Linked DNA regions of Homo sapiens: region 1 is linked to region 2. The links come from fine-mapping of genetic effects on gene expression. Tissue or cell type: whole blood. Region 2 holds a variant in brackets; the other region holds the start of a gene. All regions are shown on one strand. Distances are between the middles of the regions.

Region 1 (5,121 bases), 26 kb before region 2:
GCACTTTTAGATCAACACTAGTAGTACTTTTCCTCCATTAACATGAGCTTCACTTTGTTTTCTCTTTCTTACCTCCAACTCTGCATTTTTTTGTTGCATTGCATATTCTTAGGTGAGCATGAAACTTTGTATGATAAAGTTGAAGTCATTTCATGAGAGTTAACATACCAAGGCCAGTTGGGACTGTAGTTCTATCTCCAGAGCTTGTACATTACGTCTCAATTCAGTAATCTCAGATTTATAGCTGGATATCTGTTCAATGTTATTATCAATTTCTGTAGTCAGTTCCTTGCTCTAGAGTATTAAAAACAAGGAAAAGGGTGAGGAAATTCTGAAATGATAAAACCTCCATGAGTTTCACTATAAGGAAGATTACTTTACCTTTTCATTGAACCAGGCTTCAGCATCTTTGCGGTTTTGTTCAGCAAGTTGTTCATATTGGCTTCTCATGTTATTCAGAAGTTGAGTCAGATCAACACCCGGGGCAGCATTCATTTCCACATTCACATCACCAGTGGACACATTTCGAAGGTCTTTCATTTCCTGTTTGAGGAACAGAAAGATTTATTGGCTACACGAGGACCATAATGAACTCTCTTTTGGCTGGGAAAAGTATAACTTTTGTGTCACCTCCTCGTGGTTCTTCTTCAGATAGGCCAGCTCTTCAGTCAGGCTCTCAATTTGCATCTCCAGGTCAGCCTTGGTCAGGGTCAGCTCATCCAGCACCCTACGCAGGCCGTTGATGTCAGCCTCCACGCTCTGGCGCAGAGCTACCTCATTCTCATACCTGAAACAAGCATGATATCAATACTGGTTATAACTTATATAGGGGAGATGTATCTGGGCAGAGACTATTTAAAAAGCAGCTACATAGTTGATCTCATGTAATGGCAATATTTGTCATGTACAGTTCTCTTAGAAGTAATAGTGGTTTAATGGAAAAAACCTTAGCAGTTACTTTAAAATGCATTTTCTTCCTTTAATATTGCCAAAAAGGTAACACTGACATGGAAAATTTCTCAGATAACTCCAATACTATTTAACTTTGGGTGAATTCAGAAAAATGTAAATGTTATTGAGGGCATCCCAAGTCATTGTTAAAAACCACTGATGTATTCGTTGTGATAGTATTATACAACGATCACTTAACTTACTTCAGCCTGAAGTCATCAGCTGCCAGCCTGGCATTGTCGATCTGAAGCAGGATGTTGGCATTATCAGTTGTTAGGTTGAGAATCTGGAGGGAGAGGCACAGTTATTTGAGAAGAGGTCAGATGCAGATATGGCTTTTGTAGTGACATAGATGCACTCTGCACTTTTATGTTGTTCTCTTACAAAATCTTGGGAAAATTTTTTATTTTAAATATGAAATATTGCAGGCTTACCCATATACTTAACTTTGAATTATTTGTTCTCTTGGAATTTCTCCAGTCTTGTATTTCTGTACACGAATTATTCCTTTCTGAAAACTAACTGGAATTATATAGATGTATTCCTGTAAGTGTGCCCTCCTCTTTTAGACTATGTGATTTCCATGTATTTCAGCCATGCTTTGGCTGACTCACACCTGCATTTGTTTAACTCATGATAAATACTAATAAATAAATACACTCTGAACTGGTACACAATAGGTACAATTCAGAAATTCCTTAGAGGCAAGCAGTGTCCCATTTTCATACTGGAAAATTTATTTTTCTTGCCATGTTGGTACTGAATATGGCTTGTTATCAGTCTGAATAACATTTTGTTCTGATTCATATCATGATTTTTTTTTTCAGTTTCTACATTTGTAAATAGCCTAGCATATTTTAACTGTGGACTCATTGTATGCTCATTAAAACCTCAAAAGTGCTTAGTAAATCTCCCATCCTCTTAAGACAAGTAGCACACTTGCTGGATGAAGATTGCCATGACCATAGTTTCACAGATGTTTATCTTTGATGAGACTGGGTTATTTTTGAAGGAAGAAAGTAACATGGGTAAGCATAGTGAACAGCCACATTGTGCTTAATTTAAGATTCATCTGTCTGGATTACATGGACAAGATACTTAAAGCTGGATTTAAAAATACCTCTTACCTGATTTTTAAGGTCATCGATGGTTTTGTAGTATTTGCTGTAGTCACGAGGCTCCCCCTGATGTGAGTTGCCATGCTTTTCATACCACTCCTTGATTTTGCCTTCCAGCTCATAGTTTGATTCTTCCAGAGCCCGAACTTTGTCCAAGTAGGAAGCCAGGCGGTCATTCAGATTCTGCATGGTTACTTTTTCATTTCCAGAGAGAAGGCCACCATCTCCTCCAAATCCACCACCAAAGCCTCCTCCAAAGCCGCCTCCACCAAAGCCGCCTCCACCAAAGCTGCCCCCACCAAAGCTGCCACCTCCGAAACTGCCCCCTCCAAAGATGCCTCCATAACTCCCACCAAAGCTGCTACTTCCATAGCTTCCACGAAAGCTACCTCCACCAAAACCTCCTAATCCTCCATAGCCACCTGATGAGCCCCCAAAGCAGCCCCCACCAGAGCTCCCACGGCTAAAAGAGCCACCACTGAACCCCCCTGAGCTAAATCCTCCACCAAGGGAGCCTTTGCTGCTAGAAATTCTTAGGGATGACACTCCTCCTCCTCCTCCACATCCTCCTCCTCCTCCTCCTCCTCCACTGCGGGAGGAAGAGTAGTGCTTGCTTGAGCTGTATCGAACAGACATGGTGATGCTGTTTAGCCCAGGGAGTGCCTGCTACCAAGGACAGTGACAAGCCTTTATATACTGAGAGGGTGTGTCCACATGTGTTAGAGTTTGCTTACTTACATTGTTTTCTTTTTGCCAACTTAGCATCTTTGGCTTATGATTGCATAAATTATCTTCAGTAATAACCAATCCTAATATGTACAATTTTGAATTTGCCCTAAGAATAAACAGGAGGTTTGCTATGTTGAAATTGAAAATGGGTGGAGTTCAGATGAGCATGTTTTATTATGCTTTTCACCTGTTGAAGAACATTGAGCAACCGTTAAGATCCATTTTTCTCAGCACTAATTCAGGTTGCATAGAATGTTTGCAAAGTTTAGAAAAAAAAGTTTCAGCTACAAAATTATAGTTAAAATAAGATTTTTCAAATTCATGTTTTAAACAGTTTTAATTGGAGCAACAAATAGCATAAAGTCTGGCAGGATCATGCTACAATAAGGTTCTTGTAGACAACTGTAGGGAATCAAAAAGAAAAAGTTTCTAAAAATTTAACTAGCATCAATAGTTGCCACACATAAAACATTAAAGCCATAAAACCACAATTTAGGAGATTGTGTTTGTAGGAGATCTTTTAATTTATTTGGCAAATGAGAGTATATTGATATTTTGCCTAAGAAAGTGGAAGTAATGATTTTAGAATTTTCTAATTAATGATGGCATTATTTTTAACATTAAAAAATCTGAAATCATAAAGTTATCCTGGATTATTTTGCACTTTTAAATTCATCATAGTTAAGGTTTCTGTGAAGACCATAATAATGCAGAAAATCTGCATTATTTTCTTAGCATGAAATCCGAAGAACTAACTTGTAGTACTTTACACTAAGTTCTGATTGAGTAAAAAGGGAAAATTTGGATATGTTATGATTGCAAGTAAAAATTTGCTTGCAAAAATGTAAATCTATATTAGAGAATGATACTTGCACCAAATATTATGAACTAGACTGTGCACATGTGTTCCCAAGCTAGGTTCAGTTTCTCAATAAAAACAACACATTTTCTTGGATATACTGTGTACAGAATTTGGTATAACAGTTTGTCTAGTGAAGTAAATTGGGATTTTGGTACATTGTATAAGATTATATCTACCCATAGGCTATGACATTGCTGTTGTTTGGATGTATATATTCATACATGTTTTACAATTATGTAGTGCTGTTTGTGATACTGTGCTTTAAAAATTTCTAGAACAAGCTGTTGAGATAGGAATGGTGGTTATTATTATTTCTTTTCTTTCTTTCTTTCTTTCTTTCTTTTTTTTTTTTTAGACGGAGGCTTGCTCTGTCGCCCAGGCTGGAGTGCAGTGGCGCCATCTCGGCTCACTGCAAGCTCCACCTCCCGGGTTCACGCCATTCTCCTGCCTCAGCCTCCCGAGTAGCTGGGGCTACAGGTGTGTGCCACCATACCTGGCTAATTTTTTGTCTTTTTGGTAGAGACAGGGTTTCATCATGTTAGCCAGGATGGTCTCAATCTCCTGACCTCTTGATCTGCCTGCCTTGGCCTCCCAAAGTGCTGGGGTTACAGGTGTGGTTATTGTTATTTCTAATTTATAGAAGAGGAAGTTGAAGTTGAGAGGTTGTGATTTTTTCCTGAAGATATGTAACAGGTGGTTGAACTGCAATTAGAAGCTTGGTCTTTTAACTCCTTGGTTCTTTTCCACTTTACCAATGTGTATATATATTATCTGCTCCAGTGGATTTGGTCTAATGGAGATGAATGACTCTAATTCTCACCGTAAACTTCTCCAAATGGGGAAAAAGAGCAAAACAAAAAGAACTTAGAATCATGAAAATATTCAAAGGGTAATGATTTGGCACACACTCTACCTTTAGTAATTGTTTTTTCAAATTAAGTTTATTGCTGCACATTTTGGTTTATGAAAACTACAGAAATAGTTTCTGTAGGGAAGGGAGTGTGGTTGGGAGCATTAATCAAATGTTGATTGTTAAAGTGGAGGTTACTACCCAGCAGATTGCAACTCTTCCAACTTGTTAGCACATGCAAATGGGGCAGTAGTTAAAAGAAAAACTGAAACCCAACCATGGGAATTGATTCTTGATGAAGATAACCTACAGTTAAAGAAGGCTATGATAAATCAGGATAGGAAAAGAAAAAACTCCAATAACTTCAGAGAACATGTTGAAACCTTGATATTAATGAAATCTTTTTGGAAAGAAACATTTTAATTAAAAAGATATTTTGATTGATTTTACCTGTAATTAGCACAAGTTTTGGATCTTAGTATTACCAATTTTGTTTTAGTATTAGCCTATAATTTCTCCCCCCAGTGGAAAATATAAAAATCCCAGTCTCCTTTCAGTTAATTAACAAGTGGTATGAAGAGAGCTCTGTTACAATCATATTAAACCAAAGA
Region 2 (5,219 bases):
TGGGAAATAAAGAAAAAGAGGGCCAGGCGCGGTGGCTCATGCCTGTAATTCCAACACTTTGGGAGGCCGAGGTGGGCGGATCACTTGGGGTTGGGAGTTCAAGACCAGCCTGGCCAACATGGAGAAACCCTGTCTCTTGTAAAAATACAAAATTAGCTGGGCGTGGTGGCACATGCCTGTAATCCCAGCTACTTGGGAGGCTGAGGCAGGAGAATCGCTTGAACCCGGGAGGTGGAGGTTGCAGTGAGCCAAGATCATGCCATTGCACTCCAGCCTGGGCAACAAGAACAAAACTCCATCTCAAAAAAAAAAAAAAAAAAAAAAAAGAGAGAGAAAGAGAACACTCAGGGAGCCAATAAGCCAGATAGCACAGGTAGGTACCTGGAAGGAGAGAGAAATCAGAAATAAGAGTGGTTCAAGACACAGTTCAAGAGCTCACATCAGTAATATAGGAAACCATCTGTTGAATGAGCCATTTAAACTGTATCATAGGGAACTTAGCATAAAGAACAGGCATGTGGTATAATTAAAAATGACTGAAAAAATTCTGCATTTTAGAAGCATCATTGTGGCGAATGTGCAGGAAAGTGAGTGCTCAGGAAGTTGGCCTTAGACAGCTGGAAAGATATGTCCTTCATTGCCAGTAAACTGGCATTCTAATGTGCACATCAGCATTGTGTGAATACAGTCACTGTAAGTCTATCATCAAGTGTCAGGTTACCTCTGGGCATGGTGAAGTCTAGTTTCTGGACCTGCAGGGCTATGAGGAACAGATTCTGGACTGTGGTAAGTTTTTTGAAGTAATTCAAATTTATATTAAATTTGTATTTTAAAAAACCCTTTTGATAATCAATCTAGTCTTGTGGGCAGCTTTTCATTTGCTTCATGATATATTCCTGTACCCTCCATGAGTGGTGTTAGGAAAAATGGCAGTAAGTATTACTTTTAACAGTTAGTTGGTAGAATAATTTACTCACCGTATTCACTAAAAAGCTGATGATTACAAATAGAAAAATAGTTTTAGGAAATGTGGAGCTTAGAGAGAACAAACACAAGTCATTCTTGCTGCCACTCTCCTGTACTCATGTCAGACATTACTAATTGATAACACATCTTCCTGCTGAACCCAGACTGGCTGGAGAATTATTCTTAATAAAATTAATCCAGGAAGCCCACAACCAATTGCCTGAATTGAGCCATGTGAATAAAAACTCTGCCCTTTCTTTCTTTGTTTTTTTTTTTTTTTGAGATGGAGTCTCGCTCTGTCGCCCAGGCTGGAGTGCAGTGGTGCAATCTCAGCTCACTGTAACCTCTGTCTCCCGGGTTCAAGCAATTCTCCTGCCTCAGCCTCCCAAGTAGCTGGGACTACAGGCATGTGCCACCACGCCCAGCTAATTTTTGTATTTTTAGTAGAGATGGGGTTTCACCATATTGGCCAGGATGGTCTCAATCTCTTGACCTTGTGATCTGCCTGCCTCAGCCTCCCAAAGTGCTGGGATTACAGGCGTGAGCCACCGTACCCGGCCCCAAAACTCTGCCCTTTCTAGTGTAAATGAGTTGCTAGGAATTCTGGTCATCAAAATTACAGAATTCAGCTGGAAAGAACCTAAAGTATGATTTATCTTTTGAATTTAATGTCATGGGGGAAGCTAAATATGCTCTTTGGCCAAAAGTCTGTGGATATTCTGACAGAAATAATACCAGACTGGATAAATAGACAAATTATCAGGATAGAATTATCTAGACCAATAATACATTCACTGTTATAGCTTCAACCAGAACAGAATTTGCAAAGGATATTAGAGGTCATTGCCAGGCTTCACCTTCCAGCATTGCCTGTTACAGGGTGTATGGTAAATTGCTTAATCTCTTTTAATCTTCACGTGAGAAATAATATCCAATTCATAAATCTGAGAATACCAATTTAGATAACACATACAAAGTGTTCTTCTACAAAGTGTTCTACACAGTGGGTACTCATAGACATCTGTCCTTTCTTTCTTCTCTTGTTAAATATTCAACACTAAACGGAACCCCTTATCAGATATCTCCAATCTCTACTAAAATATTTCTAGTGATGAGAAACTCATTGTCTCATGAAGCACTTCACCTTCCTTTGAAGTGCTCTAATTATTAAAAAGCTTATCTTTCTATTTAACTGAAATCTGCCACACAGAATATAGCTTTGCTGATGGAGAATCTTTTGGGTATTTGACAAGATTACTCTGTGTTTCTAAGT[C/T]TTTTATTTTCCAGGTTATGGATCACCAGTTCATTCAACTGTTCCTTAGATGACGTGGTTTTCAATTCCATTATCATGTAGGTTGCCTTAACTTGGATCACTTCTAAATCTGTAGGATTAATCTGACCTCTCTTTTTCTGTTTCTAGTATTAGCTTAGGGAATATTTTTTAAGGAATGCCTGCTAACTGTGTTTTATCCCATTGCACTTGATCACCAGCATAATGCTACTTCCAAAGATATAACACAGAATTTATTGTTTTCATATGTAAATTTATAGAAACTATTTAAATTTAATAATTAATTATTAGTAACCTATAACCCCCCCCCCCCCCTCACCACTCCTTGGTTTCAGGGTTTGGTTTCAGGGTGGCTCAGGTGTCTTGAACACATTTGTAATGGAAACTTGATAAACTCCTATTTTGGGTTCACCCTCTTTTCTTGGGTGTGGGGCCAAAGTTTGTCACTTAGATTAACTAGTTGGCTTGCAAGCTATAATTATCTTCCTCCTCCAATTAAAATCACATTTCTGTATTGCCACATCTAGTTATTGCAAAATCTAGCAATACACCTTGGATTCTTATTTCCCTCTAAGCAGACTTTCCCTGACGATTCATATTTTTTCTTCTGGGTTGTTCAACTCTTAGGTATTGCTCTTGTCCCACTGCTGAGTAGGACATTGTTTCCAACAAAGATTGATCATTGGGTAATTTACAATATTGTTGGTTTTGTTTTTCTGTGTCTCATTTGCTGTATTAGAATGATTAACACACATTATTATATTATTATTTCTAGATTTGATTAATAGAATTTTGGGTGACTCATATACTCCAGCTATACCTATGTGACAGCATAATTGGATCCAAAATGAAAAATTCAATCAACATAGGGTTTTATTTTTAATTGTGCCAAATGAAAGGCTTAATTAATAATTTTCATTGGATTTTAGCTAATCCGTTTACCGGAATTTTTCAATCATGTGTTATGAATGTATAAACCTAATGTGATATTTCTAAACATCATTTCAACCTACATGTATTTGGCATGCCCACATTTTCTGCCAGATGCTGCATTAAGTACTGGGGACTTATTTCTGGATGGCCAATAATACCTGGCCCAGCCTTTGAGGAGGAATAAGATACAAAAATTCGTCTTCTAAAAAGGAAGTGCAGACTACCTGGGTCAAGGAACTTATGGTTCTCAGCTGGTGTGATGATTACTTAGTTTTATGGGAAAACACTCCAGAGGACACGCTCTTTGGTCCTATTCTTGCCAATCCACTCCCATTTAATACCATATGTTGAAATTTTATGTACTCCTCAAGGCTCTGCTCAGATGCCTTTCTGCTGTAAAGAGTGGTCCTCATATCCCAGCCCTTTATATTACCTCCCTTTTCCAAACTTCTGTGGCAGGTCACTTTATACCTGGCGAGGCAAGGTTATTTGCATACCTGACTAGTCCGCTCCCATTTGCTTCCATAGTGACCAGTAAATATTAGTTTGATTGAGAGAAAAGTGTATTTTACTTATTTTTAATTTTTATTCCTAACTGCTAGACCACCAAAGAGAGAGAGCACAATGTTTTTTAGATAGAACACCTCGTTATTAAGGGAGAACAAGTTCTATTTTGATCTAGATTGGCAGGAGTATTACATTTTCAGACTGAATATTTTCATGGAAAGCCAGTGTTCCATCAGCCATTTTAAGATAACTCAGTTTTGTATCTATGGTTAGGCGATTGCCTACATACAAAGCACACTTTAATGACGAATTAGAGGATTCCAAGCTTGCCTTTATAAGTGAATATCTACAGATTTTTTTTTCTTATAAATACTACATGGAAACCAAGTTACTCTATGTTTTGAAAGCAACTTCTAGTACTCTTTAGATGTATGGGAAAAAGTCCTCAGGTTAATTTCCTTAAGAAAAAGCGTCATGAATTAAAAGACTGCTTGTTGAAACTGAAGATCACTTTCTACTGAGTCACCAGATATTGAGCAATATGATTTATATCAATATGCCTTGTGAAATTGTCAAGTTAAAGATTGTACATATTAGATAAGAAAATTTTGTGTCCCTATAGAGTGACAAGTATCTTGAGGGTTTTCTGGAAATATTGAATTCAACAAATATCTCAGTAAAATGCAAACAACTTCTTGATGGATTTTTTAGTCTCAAACAGCCAGCCTAATTCCTTTATTAAGATTTAAGGAGAAGGAAGTAAGTGGAATTCAATTTCATATGACGCAAGCATATTTTAAATAGAGTAACCAAAACAAATAGATTCAAATGGAATCTATGCAAACCATCCTCTTTGCTTCCTTTGTGATGGACACTCCTTAGCTTCTGCGCCTTAATAAGGTAGGGTTTGTTCATTCAGTCTTTCCAAAGATAAGTGTTGGAAAATTTAGAGTTAATAAATCAGTGGATAAAAATTCAATGACTATTTCAAGAAAATAATAGAAGAAATATATCGCCACCATTCAATGTTTGTGCAACCAGTGTTTATTGAGTGCTTTTAATGGTACCTAGAGAGTAATACAGGTGGTCAAGCACAGTGGCTTATACCTGTAATCCAAGAACTTTGGGAGGCTGAGGTGGACAGATTGCTTGAGCCCAGGAGAGTAATACAGGCATTATTCCAGCTTTTACTGAGTGAATATTCTAGCATTTGTACGTAATTCTGTGCACAGGTATTCAACAAGTATTGATTGTCTCCTATGCAGTAGGGTATATGTGCTGTTTTATGCACTGTGCTAGATGCCAGGGCTACAGTGGAGGGCAAAACAGACATGGCCGCTGCCCTTAGAGAGAATGCAGTGGTAGAGCCAGACATTATTTCAATATTCATACAAATAAATGTATAATTGCAAATTGCGCTAAGAGCTGTGAAGGATAACTACAGTATAGTATGAGAAGGTAGAATAGGAGAACCTGACTTGGTTAATGAGGGGCATTTGAGTTAGGACCTAACTGGTGACTA

Evidence for each region. PIP is the estimated chance that this variant, and not a neighbour inherited with it, causes the effect.
Region 1: KRT10 starts here. The variant in region 2 is fine-mapped to the expression of KRT10 in whole blood (TOPMed, PIP above 0.99).

The regions. Positions count from the first base shown.
Region 1 is chr17:40,819,881-40,825,001 of GRCh38, forward strand. KRT10 (keratin 10) reads right to left here and starts at 2,734. Exons shown (of 8, transcript NM_000421.5): 1 at 2,079-2,734; 2 at 1,155-1,237; 3 at 631-787; 4 at 382-543; 5 at 169-294. The coding sequence starts at 2,705. All of the region lies in intron 1 of KRT10-AS1 (KRT10 antisense RNA 1), which reads left to right. RefSeq lists an enhancer at 1-974.
Region 2 is chr17:40,846,264-40,851,482 of GRCh38, forward strand. LOC105371777 (a long non-coding RNA gene) reads left to right here and starts at 4,535. Exons shown (of 3, transcript XR_934754.3): 1 at 4,535-4,597. The variant C/T (reference allele first, on the strand shown) is at 2,240.